Regions from separate parts of the Homo sapiens genome. Here regions 1 and 3 are each linked to region 2. Evidence: fine-mapped expression QTL. A gene starts in region 2. Each other region holds a variant in brackets. All regions are shown on one strand. Distances are between the middles of the regions. Region 1 has its middle 5.3 kb from the start of GRK6. Region 2 holds the start of FAM193B (family with sequence similarity 193 member B). Region 3 overlaps FAM193B (family with sequence similarity 193 member B).

What was found. PIP is the estimated chance that this variant, and not a neighbour inherited with it, causes the effect.
Region 1: its variant is fine-mapped to the expression of FAM193B in whole blood (TOPMed, PIP above 0.99).
Region 3: its variant is fine-mapped to the expression of FAM193B in whole blood (TOPMed, PIP above 0.99).

The regions. Positions count from the first base shown.
Region 1 is chr5:177,417,669-177,425,070 of GRCh38, reverse strand. No RefSeq gene overlaps it. Among named protein-coding and RNA genes, the nearest start is that of GRK6, 5.3 kb to the left of the region's middle. The variant A/G (reference allele first, on the strand shown) is at 2,974.
Region 2 is chr5:177,550,940-177,557,233 of GRCh38, reverse strand. FAM193B (family with sequence similarity 193 member B) reads left to right here and starts at 2,671. Exons shown (of 9, transcript NM_001190946.3): 1 at 2,671-2,985. The coding sequence starts at 2,776. FAM193B-DT (FAM193B divergent transcript) reads right to left here and starts at 2,606. Exons shown (of 3, transcript XR_941274.3): 1 at 2,305-2,606. RefSeq lists a cis regulatory region at 1-250, enhancers at 2,413-2,562, 2,583-2,742, 2,469-2,972 and silencers at 2,853-3,062, 3,393-3,502.
Region 3 is chr5:177,522,659-177,530,060 of GRCh38, reverse strand. It overlaps FAM193B (family with sequence similarity 193 member B), which reads left to right. Exons shown (of 9, transcript NM_001190946.3): 6 at 4,856-5,876; 7 at 6,029-6,104. Among named protein-coding and RNA genes, the nearest start is that of DDX41, 9.4 kb to the right of the region's middle. The variant C/T (reference allele first, on the strand shown) is at 3,930.

The DNA of each region.
Region 1 (7,402 bases), 130 kb after region 2:
GTACCTTAAAAGAGGGAAACCCTCCTGGCTAATGCGGTGAAACCCCGTCTCTACTAAAAATACAAAAAATTAGCCGGGCATGGTGGCGGGCACCTGTAGTCCCAGCTACTTGGGAGGCTGAGGCAGGAGAATGGTGTGAACCTGGGAGGTGGAGCTTGCAGTGGGCCGAGATCGTGCCAATACACTCCAGCCTGGGCAACAGAGTGAGACTCCGTCTCAAAAAAAAAAAAAAAAAAGGGAAACCCAGGGCCCAGTGGAACATAGGGCAGGTACCTCACTTAGTGAAGGCTGTTGTGTCCAAGTGAAATCTGAAGATTCAGTGAAAATGTGCAGGTTACTGGAGTAGGGAGGGAAAGAGCCTTCTGGACAGAGGGGTATCACATGTTCGAAGTTCCGTAGAGGAAGTCAGGAAGGGCTCCTGCGTTCAGCACCTAAGCATCCAGCTGGGGTTTAAAGGTACACAGTGGTACACAATGGGGTCGACATGGGGGCAAGAAATGAGGCTGAAGTCTCAGGAGGGGCCTGGATCAGGGAGGGCCTTGAGAGCCACCTAAGGAATTTTGGACTTCGTCTTGAAGGTGGTAGGGAGCTCTCACGGAGGTTTTGAGTAGGGTGATCAGATTTGCTTTCATAGAGAGCTCTGGGCTGCACTGTGAAGGATAAGCTGAGGGGAGGGGGCTGGCTTGTTGTTGTTTTAGTTCCCAACATCTGAAGCCCTTCCCGTTTGAGAAGAATCCTATGAGATGTGGAGGCAGACCCTGCCTTCAACTCAGGAAATCAAAGAAGGGAGGTAGAATTTTTTCTCCCAGGTCTCTGGTAGCTGGAGCACAATTCCAATGTTTCCAACCAGGTCTTTGAATCTAGAGCATGTGACCGGCACAAGACATCAGGGGGATCATTTAGAATTCACTGTGGAGGCCGTGGAGGTTGGGGGAGGCAAGGAAGGCAGTCAAGCTAGGCCCTTCCTGGGGGAGGGGGATTCAGCAAGCCCCCCAGGCTGCCCCATCCATTCCTCATCTGCTTAGTTACTCAGAATTGGCTTCCTTGTCTGCAAGCCAAGTATCCTAAGACAGGTGAGAGACCTTTTAGAAGGAACTTTTAGAGAGAGGAATGATGGTGCCCTATGCTGGGGCAGTGGCCAGGACATGCAGACAGGTGGACAGATGGAGACCTGGCATGTAGCTGGCATGAACAGGACATGGCAATAGATAAGAGGTGAAGAGGAGATGTCACTCAGGAAATTTCGTTCCAGCTCTTTAAGCCATTTTCCACCTACAGCCAAAGTGATATTTTTAAAAGGGAAAATTGGCTAAGCATGGTGGCTCATGCCTGTAATCCCAGAACTTTGGGAGGCCAAGGCAGGCTGATCACCTGAGCTCAGGAGTTCGAGACCACCCTGGCCAACATGGTGAAACCCCATCTCTACTAAAATATAAAAAATTAGCCGGGCATGGTGGTGCGGGCCTGTAGTCCCAGCTACTCAGGAGGCTGAGGCATGAGAATCGCTTAAGCCCTGGAGGTGGAGGTTGCAGTGAGCCAAGATCATGCCAGTGCATTCCAGCTTGGGCAACAGAGCGAGACTCCATCTCAAAAATAAATAAATAAATAAGAGGGAAAATCTGCCACCAACCATCTGAGATGTGCACATCTAGGAATCTATCTTACAAATATCATTGCACTTAGTCGGGTGCTGTGGCTCACGCCTGTAATCCTAGCACCTTGGGAGGCCGAGGTGGGTGGATCACGAGGGAAGGAGTCTGAGAACAGCCTGGCCAACATGGCAAAACCTATCTCTACTAAAATTTAAAAAAATTCACCAGGTGTGGTGGCGGGTGCCTGTAATCCCAGCTACTTGAGAGGCTGAGGCAGGAGAATCGCTTGAACCTGGGAGACGGAGGTTGCAGTGAACTGAGATCGTGCCATTGCACTCTAGCCTGGGGGACAGAGTAAGACTCTGTCTCAAAAGAAACAAATATCGTTGCACTCAAGCAAAATAAGAAATGCTTAAGGCTGGTGGGGCCTGGTGGCTCACACCTGTAATCCCAATACTTTGGGAGGCAGAGGCGGGAGGATCACTTGAGACCAGGAGTTCAAGACCAGCCTGGCCAACATGGCAAAACCCCATGTCTACTAAAAGTCCAAAACTTAGCCAGGTGCAGAGGTTGCAGTGAGCGGAGATTGTGCCACTGCACTCCAGCGTGGATGACAGAGTGAGACTCTGTCTCAAAAAAAAAAAAAAAAAAAGAAATGTTTAAGGCTATTCATTGCAGCATTGTCCAAAAAGATGGATCATACTAATTGTCCTTAATAGAGACTGATTAAGTAAAATGTCCTTTCCTACCCAGGAATACGATGTAGCTATTTAAAAAAAAAGCGTGGAAGTGCTTGTATACTGATATAAACAATCTCCAAGATATATTGTTAAGTGGAAAAAATCAGGGTGCAGAACAGTGTGTAAGGCTTGCATAAGAAGTGTCTGGGCTGGGCACAGTGGCTCAGCCTGTAATCCCAGCACTTTGGGAGGCCGAGGCGGGCGGATCACCTGAGGTCAAGAGTTCAAGACCAGCCTGGCCAACATGGGGAAAGCCCATCTCTACTAAAAAACACAAAGATTAGCTGGGAATGGTAATCCTAGCTACTCAGGAGGCTGAGGCAGGAGAATTGGTTGAACCCAGGAGGTAGAGGTTGCAGTAAGCAGAGATGTTGCACTCCAGCCTGGGTGACAGAGTGAGACTCTGTCTCAAAAAAAAGGAAGGGTCTGGATAGATTAGGTTCTGCTGCAGTAACAAACAATCCCAAGTTTAAGTGACCTAAAGCAACAAAAGTTCATTTCCTGCATACACCACATGTCTAACACAGCTTGTTGGGTGGTGGGGTGGCACTACACATAGTAGTCACTCAGGGCCCCAGCGTAGTAGGGGCTTCATTGCAGTTTGTGCTTCTACAATGGCAGGTGGTGAAAGGAAATGGGAA[A/G]TTTGGTAAATCATACAATAGTCCTTAAAGCTCGCACCCAAAAGTGACACAAGTCACTTCTGCTCACATTTCATTGGTCAAAGCAAACCACATGGCCACAAGTAGCTTTCAAGGGGTGGGGAGAAGGGCTGGCATGGTGGCTCATGCCTGTAATCCCTGCACTTTGGGAGGCCAAGGCTGGTGGATCACCTGAGGTCAGGAGTTTGAGACCAGACCGGCCAACATGGTGAAAACCTGTCTCTACTAAAAATACAAAAATTAGCCAGGCGTGGTGTTGTGCACCTGTAGTCCCAGCTACTTGGGAGGCTGGGGTGGGAGAATCGCTGGAACTCAGGAGGCAGAGGCTGCAGTGAGCCGAGATCGTTCCACTGCACTCCAGCCTGGGAGATAGAGTGAGACTCTGTCTCAATAAATAAATAAATAAATAAAGGAGTGGGGAGACACAACATTACTATGGCAGATTATATTTTCTAAAGATGAGTGTAACAATGCATTCCCATCCCATGGGCACCTCTGCAATGGAACCTTGCCACCCCCACAGCAAGAGATAGAGTTTAATTTCCCTCCCCTTGAATTTGGTCTGACCTTAATGACTCTCTTGTCATCGGTAGAATATGGTGGAAATGATGCAGAGTGAAGTCTGAGGCCAGGTCAGGAAAGGCCATATGGCCTGGCTGTCATAAAATGCCGGCTCCCCAGAACTGTCCTCTTGGGCTCTTTCCTCACAGTCAGCTGCTGCTGTGAGAAGCCCTAGCCAAATGGAGAGGCCACATGTGTGTGCTCTACTGTGGTTGACAATCCCAGCTGAGCCCAGGACGCTGGGATGATCCAGTCATCCCACCCCCAGCACCAGACATGTGAGTGAAGAAGCCTCCATATGATAATTCTAACCCCTGGCAATTTGAGTCACCCCCAGCCATGCAAGTATCCAGCTGAGGTCCCTGGCATCTTCCCTGCTGAGTCCTGCCTGAATTCCTGACCCACAGAATCCATGAGCATGATAAAACAGGCCACTAAGTTTGGAGTAGTTTATAATGCAGAAGCAGGTACCTGGCATCACTCCTATAGGCCTGGAAGGATAAAAGAATTGGAAATGTTTGGTGAACAACACTAACAACCACCACAGACAGTTTTGCTTATATATATGTTGCCACCTTGGGAAGGCCACGTGAGGCAGCAGAAATGCTGCTTGCATCTGGGAAGGGGTAGTTAAATGGCTGGGGATGGGGGTGGGAGGGAGGTTTTTCACCTCCCTTTTTGCACCTTTAATCTTGCATTGTGTGACTGGATGGCCTGTCTTAAAAACAATCAGCCGGATCCTGTCACTCTTACTCAGAACTCTCCAGTGGCTGCCTGTGGTAGGCAACCTCTAAGGTACCCCTGCCACCACGGATCTCTGCTTCTTCCTGGTCCGTGGATCTCTGCTTCTTCCTGGTCCGTGGATCTCTGCTTCTTCCTGGTCCGTGGATCTCTGCTTCTTCCTGGTCCGTGGATCTCTGCTTCTTCCTGGTCCGTGGATCTCTGCTTCTTCCTGGTATTCACAGCCTTAAGATCCCCTTAAGTGTCAGGTGGACCTCCTGACTCACTTTTTTTTTTTTTGAGATGGAGTTTTGCTCTCCTTACCCAGGCTGGGGTGCAATGGCATGATCTCAGCTCACTGCAACCTCCACCTCCTGGGTTCATGCAATTCTCCTGCCTCAGCCTCCCGGGTAGCTGGAATTAAAGGCACTCACCACCACGCCTGGCTAATTTTTTGTATTTTTAGTAGAGACGGGGTTTCACCATGTGGCCAGGCTGGTCTCAAACTCCTGATCCGCCCGTCTCGGTCTCCCAAAGTGCTGGGATTACAGGTGTGAGCCACTACACCCGGCATTTTTTCTTTTTCTTTTTTTCTTTTTTTTTGTTTTTGAGATGGAGTCTCGCTCTGTGGAAGTCTCGCTCTGTTGCCAGGCTGGAGTACGGTGGCTTGATCTCCACTCACTGCAACCTCTGCCTCCCAGGTTCAAGCAATTCTCCTGCCTCAGCCTCCCGAGTAGCTGGGACTACAGGCGCGTGCCACTACGCCCAGTTAATTTTTGTAGAGATGGGGTTTCACCATGTTGGCCAGGCTGGTTTTGAACTCCTGACCTCAAGTGATCTGCCCATCTCTGCCTCCCAAAGTGCTGGGATTACAGGCGTGAGCCACCAGGCCTGGCCTGCCCCCGGCCTTTTCTTTTTTTCAGAGTCTCGCTCTGTCGCCCAGGCTGGAGTGCAGTGGTGCAATCTCGGCTCACTGCAAACTCCGCCTCCCGGGTTTAAGCAATTCTCCTGCCTCAGCCTCCGGAGTAGCTGGGATTACAGGCGCTGCCCACTACGCCTGGTTAATTTTTGTATTTTTAGTATAGATGAGGTTTCACCATGTTAGCCAGGCTGGTTTCAAACTCCTGACCTTGGGTGATCTGCCTGCTTCGGCTTCCCAAAGTGCTGGGATTTCAGGCGTGAGCCACTGGGCCGGGCCACGTTTTTTTTCCCTAAGAGACAGGGTCTTGCTCTGTCACTCAGGCTCGATCACAGCTTACTGCAGCCTCCACCTCCTGGGCCCAATCGATCAGCCTACATCAGCCTCCCGAGTAGCTGGGACTACATGCGCATGCCACCATACCCAACTAATTAATTTTTTTGTAGAGATAGGGTCTCCCTCTGTTGCCCAGGCTGGTCTCAAACTCCTGGCTCAAGCAATCCTCCCTCCCTGGCCTCCTAAAGTCTTGGGATTACAGGCATGAGCCATGGCACCCAGCTTGACTCACTTCCAATGGAAGGAATGCAGCCAAAGTGATGGAATGTCATTTCCAACATGAGATTACTAAAAGATTGTGGCTACCATCTTACGTAACTCCTCTTGCTCCCTCACTGGCTCAGTCTGAGAGAAACCACCTGTTAGGTTGTGAGATGGAGAGACCCTATGTGGCAGGCAACTGATGTCTCTAGCCAACAGCTTTGTAAGTGAACTTGGAAGTGGATCCTTCCCCCGGCAGCCTCAGCTGACCCTCCGATGCAGCCTTGTGAGAGATGCTGATCCAGTGGCACTCAGTTAAAAAGTGCCGGGTTCCTGACCCATAGAAACTGTGACCCATAAATATCTTTTTTAAAAAGAGTTTATGGCCGGGAGTGGTGGCTCACACCTGTAATCCCAGCACTTTGGGACGCCAAGGTGGGTGGATCACCTGAGGTCAGGAGTTCAAGACCAGCCTGACCAATATAGAGAAACCCCATCTCTACTAAAAATACAAAATTAGCCAGGCGTGGTGGCACATGCCTGTAATCCCAGCGACTCAGGAGGCTGAGGCGGGAGAATTGCTTGAACCCGGGAGGCAGAGGTTGCGGTGAGCCGAGATCGTGCCATTGCACTCCAGCCTGGGCAACAAGAGAGAAACTCTGTCTCAAAAAAATAAAATAAAAGCTTAATTGGCCAGGAGCAGTGGCTCACGCCTGTAATCCCAGCACTTTGGAAGGCCAAGGCAGGCCAATCATGAGGTCAGGAGTTCGAGACTAGCCTCGCCAACATAGTGAAACCCCATCTCTACTAAAAATATAAAAATTAGCCAGGTGTTGTGGTGGGCACTTGTAGTCCCAACTACTTGGGAGGCTGAGGCAGGAGAATCCCTTGAACCTAGGAGGCAGAGGTTGCAGTGAGCCAAAATCGTGTCACTATACACTCCAGCCTAGGCAACAGAGCGAGACTCTGTCTCAAAAAAAAAAAAAAAAAAAGAGTTTAATTGATGTGAGGCTGGCCCACGTGAGAGAACTGGAGTTATCATTGAAATCAGTCTCCATAAATGTCATTTTAAGCTGCTAAATTTTGGGACAATTTGTTATGCAGCCATAGATAATTAATACACTTCTCATTACACTTAAAAAATAAAACCTCCTTGAGGCTGCAGTGAGCCATGATCATACCATTGCACTCCAGCCTGGGTAACAGAGCAAGAACTGTCTCCAAAAAAATAAATAAATAAATAAATAATAATTTAAAAAAACCTCCTGTAGTCCCAGCTACTTGGGAGGATGAGGTGGGAGGCTCACTTGATCCTAGGATTTCAAGGCCAGCCTGGGCAACAACATAGTGAGACTTAGCTCTACAAAAAATAAACAATTAAAATGTTAAAAACCCTATGTTCTTCCCCGTGGCCCACAATGGCCCAACTTGATCCGGGCCCTGCTTCCCTCTCCAGCGTTATTTCATGCCCTCTCCTTCTCATTCGGTGTGCACCAGCAGCCACACGCTGAGCTTCTTCCTGCTTCCATCAGGAGCTGCACTGTCCAACATGGTAGCACCTAGTCACATGTGGCTACTTAAATTAATTAAATTTGGCCGGGTGCGGTGGCTCATGCCTGTAATCCCAGCATTTTGGGAGGGCGAGGTGGGTGGATCACCTGAAGTCAGGAGTTC
Region 2 (6,294 bases):
TTGCTGAGCACCCCTGATTTTATGGCTGAGTAGATCAGATAACACTCAGTTCAGGTCACGTGGTCACCTAGTAGGCCAGGATCAGGCATCCAATTTCACCAGACCCCTGAAGCAAGCCAGGAGCTATTTCTAAAATGGAATATAACTATTTGCTGAAGGAAAGCATAAGTTTGCTCCAAAATCCAATGCTTGAGTATTAAGACCAAAGCCAGAACTATTTACTCTGCAGCCTGGTCCACTAAGAAAAGTTTCTCTTTTTGTATGATCCTGCCTTAAAGTTGGCAGCTTTCAAGTGACCCAGTAACTGGTCAAAATAACGTACCTAAGTACAGGCCGGGCGCGGTGGCTCATGCCTGTAATCCCAACACTTTGGGAGGCTGAGGCCGGAGGTTCAGGAGGTCAGGAGTTCGAGACAAGCCTGACCAACATGGTGAAACCCTGTCTCTACTAAAAATACAAAAATTAGCTGAGCATGGTGGTGCGCGCCTGTAACCCCAGCTACTCCGGAGGCCAGCAGGAGAATCACTCAAACCCGGGAGGCAGAGGTTGCAGTGAGCAGAGATCCCGCTACTGCACTCCAGCCTGGGTGGCAGAGATTCCATCTCAAAATAATAATAATAATAATAATAATAATAATAATAATAATAATAATAATAATGTATCGAAATACATCTATGTTACCTACCAAGTCTAAAGAAGCCCCAGCCCAAGTATTGCACCTCTTCCCTAGTAGGGAGTGTGATCTACAGCAGCTTTCCCTTCACTTTGTACGAAATATCTCAACATATCCCAGACTCCTAGATGGCTTACTGCGAGGCCCCTATATATTTGTGAGATTTATTATCCATCCTCTGGCACACACATCATGCCTTACCAAATCATCCAGGATATCTGCTATTCCCTTTTCTTAAGGTCCATCAAGATGATGTCATCAGTGCCTCAGCAGATTAGCCTGATATCCATTAGAATGGAGATTTAGTAAAAAAAATCCCTGTAAACTGGCAGGGTGCAGTGGCTCCGCCTGTAATCCTAGCACTTTGGGAGGCCGAGGCAGGTGCATCACCTGAGGTCAAGAATTCGAGACCAGCCTGGGCAATACGGGGAAACCCCGTCTCTACTAAAAATACAAAAAAATTAGGGGGCGTGGTAGCATGTGCCTCTAATCCCAGCTAATCTGGAGGCTGAGGCACGAGAATCCCTTGAACCCAGGAGGCGGAGGTTGCAGTGAGCTGAAATTGCGCCACTGCACTCCAGCCTGGGAGATAGAGTGAGACTCTGTCATTAAAAAAAAAAAAAAAAAAAATCCCTGTAAACTAAGTGGCTGGGTCCAGAGTGTGACATACCCTGAAGCAAGACAGTGAGGGTTTACCGCTGCCCCTGCCAGATCAATGCAAGGGATTCCTGGTGTTTGGTACAGAAGAATAACCATTGACCAGACCTCTTGTTGCCTATTAGAGACCAACAACTGTGCTGATCTGTCCCAAGAAGGACCGCATCTGGAAGAATGCCTGCAGTTGGGGTTCTTACCAGAATAAGTAAGTTTATCATAATGCTCTGTTGTTCTTCAAGGCCGTCTCTCTTCTGTTCTGGGCAAACTGAAGAGGTAATGGTGATGTGATGGGACTCACCCTGCGTCTTTCAAATCTTTGATAGTGGCATTAATCCCTGGGTGAGATAAGGTACTATTTTTGATTTATTTTCTTGGTAGTTAAGGAGAGCTCCAGGGCCTTCCATGTAGCTCTTCCTTTCAAAATAGCCCTTGCCCCATGGGTTAGGAAGCCAGTGTCAGGATTCCGCCCCTGTTGATACCAATAGCAACTCTGCATATAACCACAATTTCAGAGTACATAGCCCAGGCATGAGACAGACTTCACTCAAAACTTTTTTTTTTTAATCTGTGCCATGTACATGTATTATACAGTATATTCACAAAAAGAGGGGGGAAATTCCATTTTTAACAATTAAATACATAATTATTAAGTTTTAAAAATTCTCCTTTGTGTACCACTCCAAAATCCTCTCCTGCACATACTATTTTTTTGGAAACACCTAGTCGTCTCATCGTTATCACACCGGTTGTAACTATGTACCTACGTGTCTACCTTCCCCATCAGACTCGGGAACAAGGAGTCGGGTTTGAGTCCCACTGTCCCAAGCACAGAACGCTGGACTCCCAGTAGACCATATGTTGCAAATAAAGACCTTCGTCCCTTTCAACTCAGGCCGTCCACGAGCCCAGGAGTTCCAACAAAATGATGTACAGCAACCTTTTCCAGGCCTTTATGTTGCCTCAATATTTCTCACCTGCAAAATGGGAATGATCCGTACCTGCCTCGCTGTGCTGTCGGAAGGAGTCAGACGATGGGTGTGAAAGTATTGTAACACTATAGAAATTAATTCACTCATCCATTTAACAGGCAATTATTAAGTGCTAGGGTGGTGCAGCGCGATTACCACCGCATTACACGCGTTCCTCCAGCAGGTTGCATCCTTCCCGTCCCGCGTAGGGGGGGAAGGGCGTCTCCCCACCAAGTTTTTCTCCCAGCGAACTCCGGGTGGTGACCTTATTCAAAATGGCGCAGGCGGCCTCGGGGGCTAGTGCGGCGGCGCGGACTCCGCGTGCCCTCTGACCTGTTGGCAGCAGGCGGAGGGGGGGAACCGGGCGCCGCCATATTGGCTGTTGTCCTGTGAGGGGAGCGGTAGCGGCGGCGGCGGCGGCGGCGGCGGCGGCGGCGGCGGCGGCGTGTGGAGCGAGGGAGCGGCGCGAGCGGCGGCATGACGCGGAGGCGGAGCAGGCCGAGCGGCGGTGCGGGCAGGCGCGAGCGGGCTCGGGCCGCGGGGCCGCAGAAGCCCCAGGCGCCCGAGCCCCCGCCGCCGCCAAGCCTGGAGGCGGGAGCGGGTGCAGGCCCTCCGGAGGCGCCGGCGGAGCCCGACCACGACGGCCCCAGGGAGGATGACGAACCCAACCTGGTGCCCGGCCCGCAGGTAGGAGCGAGCGGGGAGACTTCGGCGGCTCGGGCGCTTTCACCTTCCCCGAGCGGGAGCGGGAGTGGGGCGGGGTTGGGGATGGGCCATCCTGCCGCGGCTGGGGTAGCAGCCTTCCCCCGGGTCCGGCGCCGAAGCTTTCTCCCCCGGGGCGGGAATGGAGGCTGGACCCCTCTCCCCAAAGCCGAGGCTCGGTCCGCGCTCCTGCGACTAGGCTGAAGCTGCTCCCCTCTCCCCGCCGCCTCCGGGCGTTCCGGCCGTACACCCACACTGGGACTGGGACTGGGACTGGGCTGTGATCCCGAGGCCGCAGCTCCGCTCTCGGCCCGCCACCTCCCCCGGGCCCACCTGCTCCCTCAGCCACAGGCCATCTCGGGGCTCTGGGACTGGACGACTGCAGCCTCTTCCCTCTGCCCCCGGGAACGGCTCCACTCCGTCCCCTGCAGCGCCTGCAGCCGCGGCCCCCTCAGCAGCTGTGTCTCCTGGCGCCTCCTCGCCATACCCAGCAGAGCAGTTGGAGCAGACAGCCAGGCTGCCCGGAGGAGTTTTTGGTGGGGTTTCTGCACTGAGGTGGAAACCCAGCAGAACCTGCCCTTCTTCCCTCCCCTGCTCCGCAAGGCAGCCCACCCCGACCTTGAGATCCCAGGTTTGGAGAATCCTGCTGAGAGCGAACAGTAGGAGGATTCCCCAAAGCTTCCAGCTTGCCACCTGGAAGAAGGTCACTTTCTTTTGAGCAAAGGAGATAACGGGAGGTACCCTGCCAAAGTTCACTGAGAGGCGGGGGTGACATGGGCCACGGTTGCTCTGGGAGGGTTGTGGCACTCGGGGCTGGGTGGCTCTCCCTAAGCTTGCTCTGACAAAAGAGTTTTGAGTTGGTCTTTTGGCTGAGCCTGCCCAGGAAGGCAGGCTCCTGCAGGAGTCTTGGAGGGTCGGATGCGGCGCCGGATGAGGATGAGGCGTGGCGGAAGATGCGTTTGGCTCTGCAGACACTGCATCGGGCAGCAGGGGACTCTGGGAGGCTGGTGCAGCCAGAAGGCATGGCTCTTGACAGCCTTCTAGTAGAATCTCTGGAATTGTGCATGTGAGTGGGGTTGCCGTTTGGGGTACCTTCCCACAAAGCCTCCCCTGACCTCCCCAGTTGCGTCAGGTGCCCTCTCTGTGCCCACAGCCCTCTGTGCCTCCCTCTGGTAGCACTCCCCTTTCTGTGATGAAACATTGTGTTGATATGTCTGTTGCCTGCCCTGGACTGTGAACTCCACAGGGACACAGGCTATGCCATCTTTCTCTGATCTTCCACGCCTCGCCCAGGGCCTTGCTAACACAGAATAAAAATAACTAGGTGAATGAGAGAGAAAATGAATCGGTCCAGAACCCGTGCTTATTGTAACCCAGTTTTCATGCTGATTTCCTTTGTGTCTCAGATCACAATAAGGTTTTTAATTAATGAAAATGTCAGCACTTACTGAGTGTCAGAAGCTCCACCTTCATCCGCATCCCCATCTCCTATCCTAGGCTGACACTTCCGTAGGAGACTCCCCAGGTTGGACCCCCAACCCCTACTGGGTCTAGCTTCCAACCCCAAAGCTGCTTCCCCCACCAGCCTACTCTGGGACCCCCGTGGGAGTGCTGTTATCCAAAAAGGGAGAGTGGGAGAAGGGAGAGCTGGAAAGCTGTTGTCTTCTCTTCTTCCCATTCAGCAGACCATAGAATACTTCAGGGTCTCTGCCACATAGAGATGCCAAAAAGCTTGGATGATGGCTCAACCATTCAGTTTTTATTAAGGACACAACTTTGCCAAGAGCTCTAAGCTTCATCAATTTCTTTGACATCTAGGTTCCTACCATGTTCTTACCTACTCCACTACTTGACCTGCTGATTCATTTATTTGTGCCAGGCACTTTACATACCTTACTTCTAATCTTCCCACCTCACCTGTATTTCTCCGCAGCGTTTAGCACAAATATGATGAATTGACCATTGATGTGATTATTTGTTTTTATTTGTGAACTCTGCGAGTTCAGGAGCCATGTCAGTCACCATTGTACCCCTGTGCCTGGTGGTTAACAAATATTGATCAACAAACTGGAGGATATAATTATCATTACTCCATTTTTCAGATGAAGAAACAGAAACTCAGAGCAACTAAACATTTGCCCAAATGACTCCAACTGTAGGTGTCAGACAAAAGAAAAGAAAAGGACTTTTAGGTACTTTGGGGGATTTTCAACAAGGCATTTTTTTTTAAACTATAGCCCCAAAGAAGGGAAACAAACTGGTAAATTCGGTTCTAGTTATGCCCCACTTTGACCGGGGGTGGGGTCTGGAAGCAGGCTTTTGTGCCCTGGTGCAAAGCACCTAGTGTAAGGGTAGGGTTCAGTCATTGCTCTGCCTACAAGCGTGTTTTTGGTGAGGAACTCTGGCTCCCATTGCCACTCATAACCCTGTCTTACATCTACAGAGTGGATAAGGAAGATGAAACTCAGTGTCATATACCAAACTGAATCCAAAGGTGGCAAATAAGACCACTTCCAGTCCACAGGCTTGTTGTAATGCCCCAGCTCACATATTGTTTTGTTTCTGTTTTTATTTTCATTTGAGCCAATATTTTAAAGATCAAAAGGTTTCCCACACATTTGGATTTGGGGCTCTTTTTTAAACTAAAGATATGGTGATGCTGGGTCCACTTTTCCACAAGGCAGTAATCAGTAGTCTCTGAGTAGCATTTGGCCCTTTTAGACAGCGTATGCTCCTTAGGCATCTTTGGTTCTTTCCAGGCCCCTTCACTCATTGGCATAACCTGTACACATTTAAAGCAGGACCTTGAGTTTAATTGGGATCCCAAATGGCTTTCAATTGTTTCAGGCCACTAAACCACATTGATCTGTTTCCTAACAACCCAAATCCTCGTTTATAGCACAAGAAGGCTGAAACAGTTACTACCTTATTAGCAAAGGAAAACAAAACAAACAAAAAAAAAAATAAAGAACAACTGAAAAAGCAATTGTAGGAGGCAGTGGGGAATAGTGTTTAGAGACTTGGATTGAATTCCCAGCTTAGCCTCCTAGCTTTGTGACTCCGCAAGTTGCTTCTCTCTGACCCCATCAGGAACTTCACAAGAGGCCTTGGTGGCTCACGCCTGTAATCCCGGCACTTTGGGAGGCTGAGGCAGGAGGATCTCTTGAGGCCAGAAGTTTGAGACCAGCATTGGTGACATAGTGAGATCTCTGGTTCTATAAAAAAAAAAAAATCAAAACTTAGCTGGGCATGGGTTCACACCTATAGTCTCAGCTAGTTGGGATGCTGAGGCGG
Region 3 (7,402 bases), 28 kb after region 2:
AGAGATTTGGGTGTAACAACCAGCTAGTTCCAGTTCCTGGGTGGTCAAACAGCCCTAGTGCTTTGGAAAGCAGAAGTGATTCACCATCCTTTTTCAGCCCCAAGGACAACCAGGATCCTTCTCCCGCCGCCTGAAGTAGTGAGCCAAGGGGTCCCACCGCTGCCTTCTGAAGGTGGTCAGCACTGTCTTTCTCCCATGCAGTCACCTAGCCAGAAAGGTTCAGTGGGCTGCAGTAGTCTCTGGCCTTTCCTGGCTTCTTAGGACAGTGGTTCCCAGTTAGGTCCCCAGAGAGCACATCCGGCAGTTCCCAAGTCTGATGTGCTTTTCGTAAATATGTGTGCTCAGATGTCTCTTCCCCTTTACTGATAATGCTATCTTCTCTCACCTTTTCTTCTGACAAACTTTCCTTCCAAGTTCAGTTCAGCTGTTTCCTCCTTCATAGCCATCCTTGGGTAACTTCCACTGTACTCCCAACCTACCTCATATATCTGGAGGCTCTGCTCACTCATCCCACACTGCACAGCTCCTGTCTGGCAGGCCCAGGCAGAACCAGGCAGCCCTGCCTTTCCAGACTTAGTCGTGGGGCTGCAGGCAGGGACAGACACACAGTGGCAGCGTGATGCATCAAGTGATTATGGTCATTATCTCTGTAGACAGCAGCCTCCTCCCTTGTCTCCTTCCACCTCCTGGACTTCACAGTCTGGCTCTCCACCAAAGCCCAGCTGCTCCTTCTCTCCCGCCTCAGGAAATGGAAAGAGCTCAGTGTCTCTCTGCTCCCTTCTCCCACTGCCAGCCCGTGACACTCTCACCTTGTCTTTGTGTCTTCTGTCTACACGAAGGTGAGAGAGTCATGGGCTGACAGTGGGAGAAGGGAGCAGAGAGACACCCTGCTTCTTAAAAACTGCACCCCTGGCTCTGTCATCTGTGACCTCCTGCCACTCCTCCACATCCACTGAAGACTCTCCTGCCCCGTTCTCTTCTTCCCAGGTCAATCCGTTTCTCACTCACTTGAATGGAGTAAGCATTGCTAAGTATTGGTAGGAGGGCAGGCAAATTGACCCATCACTCACTCACTCACTCACCAGTACTCAATTCCTTGTCCCGCTGTCTTTCCTTCAGACCCACTCAGAAACACTGCAGCCCTGGGTTCCACCCCAGCCTGGCTCTCCCTTTCTACAGCTCAAGAAAAGCACATGAGTGAATCTGTGGCAGCCAGCCACGTGGGCTCCCGATTGCCGAGTTCCCGTGTCGCCAGGCGGGCCTCTCATGGTTCCCTGGGCTTCCTGTACCTTAGCACGTCCATTCCCCACAGTCCTTCTGTCAGGCCTCCAGTCTTCTCAAACCGCTAGGCCTTCCGAGCCCACACCTTATTTTTTGGCAAATAGCCTCACTTTTTATTTCAATGAGGAAAAAAGCCATTATACAGGGATTCTCCCACTGTTTTGCCATTCCCACCTGCAAACATACTTTCTTCCTTGTCATGAGAGTCACCCTTTTCCCGCCTAAGGCCTGTGCGGTACTTTCTTGACCCCTCAGCCCAGCAGCAGGCTCCTGGTCTAGCTTAGCCTCTCCTCCATGCTGTTCCCGTCCACATTTCATTGTGTCCACCATTCTCTTTTTTGGAAGCAAACTGCTCCTTGAGCCTGTTACCTCTCTCTCAACCCCTCCCCAGCCTCTTTCCTCTCATCACAGCCACACTTCTTGAAAAATGATGTCTGCATTCACTGTCTTCCCTTCCACCCATTAGCTCATTGCAGGCGGTTTTCTACCCACACCCTCTCCAGAGTCACCGGTGACTTTTTTGTTGCCAAATCCATCCTCCTCTGCTGTTCCTATCGTGTTAGTCCACTAGAGAATATCTGGCATTTGTGTTTGTCCTTTTCACACATTGTCTTTGGGCTCCTCTGTCCTCAGCCAGGCAGGAAAGGGCAAGGGGAGTGCCATGTTCTCCAGATGTCTTGCCTGCCCCTCTGACGTCCTTTCTGTCTCCTTTGTGAGCTCCTCGTCCTCCACTTGACCCTCCTTCATGGGGACATCTCCCTGGGAAAGAGATGCCATCTAGAAACAGCCCAATAGTGTTTCCTCCCCACCCTGTACATCCACGTCTCCAACTGCTACTGGACACCTCCTTGTGGACGTCCCACAGGTATCTCAGACTCTGCACATCCAAAGTTCAGCTTGTTGTCTTTCTCCGAACAGGCCTGCTTTCCCTTCTCTGTTGTCTGTCTAGTCAATGGCACCGCCTCCCACCCTGTTGCCTGAGCCGGAGCACTGGGCGCCCGCCTGGGGAGTGCATCATAGTGACCTGGAATAGCATGCCTGGAACTGGATCTCAGTTTGACACTTGGCTCTGCCACACTTGCTGTATGACATTGGGCAAATCACTTAACCTCTAAGCCTCAGTTTCTTCATCCATAAAATGAGAATAACAGAACCTAAGTCGTAGATTGTTGCAGGGATGAAATGGAGCGATGCATGGAAAGGTTAGGCAGAGTGCCTGGCACATGTGAGTTCTCAGGCAGTGGGGCTGCTGTGGCAGCCATAGTGGCCATCAATGTTTCTCTGACTTTTCTCATTCTGTCTCCCTACCCAGCACCAAAAGCCCTATCCATGCCACATCGCTGATAGCTCAGACCAGTCCACCGCTCTCCACCCTACTGCCACTACCTTAAAAGCCATCAGTGGCTGGACATTGCCCTCGGGCACAAACACTGTAGGGCCTGCAGGGCCCTTCACGATCAGCCCCTGCCAGCTTTATCTCTCAGCCTCTCCTTTCTGACCTTCCTGCCCACCTGCCCCACCCAACCCCCACATCCCCCAAAAAATCTGGGCTACAGCTATACCTCTGAATGATTTGCATTCCCAGAAGATACTGAGCTTTCCCATTTCCAGCCTTTCCACTTGCTATTCCTTCTCTCTAGAAAATGCTTGTCTCACTGCCTCCGGGATGATTCCACTCCCCATTCTGTGCTCAGTGCAGATCCTCCCACCTCCAGGAAGCACTCCCTGGTGAACCAGTCTGTGTTGGGAGCATCTCCTCTAGATTCCCAGATCACCCCGTGCTTTCTTCCATGCAGCACTTGTCACTGTCACTCTGAATTCAACAGGCTGTTTGCTGTTGTCTCCCTCAGCAGACTGAAGTCAGCGAGGCAGAGAATGTCTCACGTACGCTAAACTCACAGGGCCTGGCCTGCTGCCTCACAGCCTCAATGGTCGGTAAATGGTTGTCAGATGGAATTGAGAAACATAGGAACTTCTGAAGATCAGGCCTGGGTGTATTGTCCTGGCTCTGCCACTTCCTAGCCACCTCCTCCTCCTGTTCTTTCCAAAGTCGAGGTTTCTCACCTATAAGCAGAGGGTCATGATGCAGCAAAGACAGTGGCGAGGATTAAAGGAGACATCTATGGGAAGTGCTGACGGTACAGAGCAGAAAGTGTGTGTTTCTGTGCTTTCTCCTCTGGCTTCCAGAGTGTATATGGTTCCATATCATTCCCTCCACACCAGCAGTTGTCAAACTTTTTTTTTTTTAGCAGCCAAACTTTTCTGTGAAATCTGTGTGGTGCTGGGGGAGCGAGGTGAAGGGCCCTTGGTCCTCGTTGGTCCAACCCAGGGCCTCTGAGCCCTACTCACAGCTAGAAATGCTGCTGCAGCTGCTGCAGACCAAGCTGCTCCCTGAGGGCCACGAAGCCCAGCCCCACCTTCGCACATGGGAAAGGACCCCACACAGACTCTCAGCTGTCCTCATACTGACCCTGGAATGTAGAGATGCCTCTTCTTCCTAATTTACAAATAGGAAAAGTAAGGTTCAGAGAGAATAAGTGATTTGTCCAAGGTCCCACAGAACAATTGACTGTAGTCCATTGTGGAGCCAGGGTTCACAAAAGATAAGTGCCTGCTGGGACGCAGGGTCACCCTCTGTACATTGACTC[C/T]GAGGTGGTAGCAAGCCCTGGTTTCTCTCACCAGCTGCCCTTTCATGTTTCTCTTCCTCCATTCCCAAATCAGCTGGAAGTACAGGAGGCAGTGGGAGTCAATGGCGCCAGGCGCACCACAGCAACCTCCTTCCCGAGGGTTTTTTATCTGCCGCCTGTCTCCCTCTAAAGGCATCGTTGGCCTTGAGGTGGGATGGAGAGGTTGGGGTGACTGAGATCCCACAGACTTTCATTTTGATTCCCTAGATCCAGATCTGTCAAAGCCAACTGGCAGGGCCTGGCCTCTCTGAGCCTTCCAGGCCTCACCTGGGCAAAGGAGCAGCTCTCACATCTTGCTGTGTAGGCCAGTGTGTTTGTCCATGGTATGCCATTGGGCACACTCTAGGTGTGACCTTGATTACTTGAGACCAAATGTGCAGCAAGTGGCCTCTCTACGGGAACACCGCCCTCTTTGGTAACACCCAGACATAGCATCAGGAAGGCACATGCCCTCCCAACCAGAGTAATCTCATCTACCCCCACACCTGCCTCCTGTAAGACCCCGTGATGGCATGGCTTTTTCCCCACCACCCGTAGGGGTGGAGAGAATGCCTCTCTAGTAGTGGTCTTCACATGCATCCCCACTTTGGCTTTACTCCGGAATTATTGTCCCCATTTTGCAGATTAGTCCACTGAAACTGAGGCTCTGGGTGAACAAGCTGTAAAAACCCTACCCTCTGTGGGTGTGACTACCCCTGCCCCCAGGACATGTACCTGTCTGGCTGCAGTTTGCCCTCACTCCTGCAGGGTGGGTAAGCAGGCTAGGATTTTAAGGCTTTGCTTCCAGCAAGTTAGTGGCAAAGCTGGGCCCCAGGCTGATGGGTCAGGTATCACATTGTGCCTGGCAGTTGACAGCCTCCTGCTAAAACTGCCTCTTGCCTTGGCAGGAAAAGGAGAAGGCCCAGTTGGCAGCAGAAGCTCTAAAGCAGGCAAATCGTGTTTCTGGAAGCCGGGAGCCAAGGCCTGCCAGGGAGAGGCTCTTGGAGTGGCCCGACCGGGAACTGGATCGGGTCAACAGCTTCCTGAGCAGCCGTCTGCAGGAGATCAAAAACACTGTCAAAGACTCCATCCGTGCCAGCTTCAGTGTGTGTGAGCTCAGCATGGACAGCAATGGCTTCTCTAAGGAGGGGGCTGCTGAGCCTGAGCCTCAGAGTCTACCCCCCTCAAACCTCAGTGGCTCCTCAGAGCAGCAGCCTGACATCAACCTTGACCTGTCCCCTTTGACTTTGGGCTCCCCTCAGAACCACACGTTACAAGCTCCAGGCGAGCCAGCCCCACCATGGGCAGAAATGAGAGGCCCCCACCCACCATGGACAGAGGTGAGGGGGCCCCCTCCCGGTATCGTCCCCGAGAACGGGCTCGTGAGGAGACTCAACACCGTGCCCAACCTATCCCGGGTGATCTGGGTCAAGACACCCAAGCCGGGCTACCCCAGCTCCGAGGAGCCAAGCTCAAAGGAAGTTCCCAGTTGCAAGCAGGAGCTGCCTGAGCCTGTGTCCTCAGGTGGGAAGCCACAGAAGGGCAAGAGGCAGGGCAGTCAGGCCAAGAAGAGCGAGGCAAGCCCAGCCCCCCGGCCCCCAGCCAGCCTAGAGGTTCCCAGTGCCAAGGGCCAGGTCGCTGGCCCCAAGCAGCCAGGCAGGGTCCTAGAGCTTCCCAAAGTAGGCAGCTGTGCTGAGGCTGGAGAGGGGAGCCGGGGGAGCCGGCCAGGACCAGGTTGGGCTGGCAGTCCCAAAACTGAGAAGGAGAAGGGCAGCTCCTGGCGAAACTGGCCAGGCGAGGCCAAGGCACGGCCTCAGGAGCAGGAGTCTGTGCAGCCCTCAGGCCCAGCAAGGCCACAGAGCTTGCCCCAGGGCAAGGGCCGCAGCCGCCGGAGCCGCAACAAGCAGGAGAAGCCAGCCTCCTCCTTGGGTGAGTGCACCAGGAACTGAGCGGCTGACCCCCTACCCCAGCCAGTCCACGGGGTGGAGGGGCAGCCTTTGTGTGTAGACAGCGCTGCCCCCAGAGCATAACCCCAAAGGCCTGGCCATGGGCACTGAGCCCTCCTGGCTGTGTCTTCCTAGACGATGTGTTCCTGCCCAAGGACATGGACGGGGTGGAGATGGATGAGACTGACCGAGAGGTGGAGTACTTTAAGAGGTAGGTGTGGGCTGCCTGCTCTCCCACTTGTGGAGGACTCCAGGTCCTGCCCACACTCAAGCCCTGTGTTGTGCCTCAAGCCTCAGAAAGGCCTGCTCCCTTGGCCCTGACCCCTTGGGGAGGCTCACCGCCCCCCCAGGCCCTCTCCCACCAGCCTGCCTGCTGAAAACCCACGGAGCCACTGGGCAGGATGGCACATCTGGGAAGGTGCAAGAGATAGGAGGAGGCATGTCAGGCCCCAAGAACCAGGGCTTTTTCCAGCTTTATTTGCTTTGTGTCTTCACTTGCACATTCTCTGCTTTGCCTGGGCTGAGGTCAATGAAGCAGTCTAGACCAGGAGTCTGGCCATGAACATGCAGCCTACTGATAAATGGCATAGAGTTGGGGAGGATAGAAGGGGTGGGGGCTGGCCAGGAGGCCTTCCCAGGAGAGGTGGTAACCAAGTTGAAACCTGAAGAGTAAGAATGAGTTGGCCAGATAAGATGAAAAGGTATTCATGCCAAGGGGGCCAGTGAGTACAAAAGATTAGGGTGAAAGAAACACGGCATACAGTCACCCTCCATATCTGCAATCAAAAATATTCAGGAAAAAAAACAAAACACAAAAAATAGCAATACATTACTAAATAATGCAAATTTTTTAAAAATTAGTATTTTTGGCCAAGCGCGGTGGCTCATGCTTCTCATCCTAGCACTTTGGGAGGCCGAGGCGGGTGGATCACCTGAGATCAGGAGTTCAAGACCAGCCTGGCCAAGTTGGTGAAACCCCGTCTCTACTAAAAATAGAAAAATAAGGCAGGTATGGTGGCACGTGCTTATAATCCCAGCTACTCGGGAGGCTGAGGCAGGAGAATCGCTGGAACCTGGGAGGTGGAGGCTGCAGTGAGCTGAGATTGGGCCACAGAACGAGACTCCGTCTCAAAAAAATACGTATTTTTACAGGTGGTGGCTCATGCCTGTAATTTCAGCACTTTGGGAGGCCAAGGCAGGCGGATCACTTGAGGTACTTGAGGTCAGGAGTTCTAGACCAGCCTGGCCAACATGGTGAAACCCTGTCTCTAATAAAAATACAAAAATTAGCCGGGCGTGGTGGCGGGCGCCTGTAATCCCAGCTACTTGGGAAGCTGAGGCAAGAGAATCGCTTGAACCTGGGAGTCAGAGGTTGCAGTAAGCCAAGATTGTGCCATTGCACTTCAGCCTGGGTAACAGAGTAAGACTCTGTCTCAAATAAATAAAAATAAAAATATAATAACTACATAGCATTTACATTGTATTAGGTATTTTAAGTAATCTAGAGAT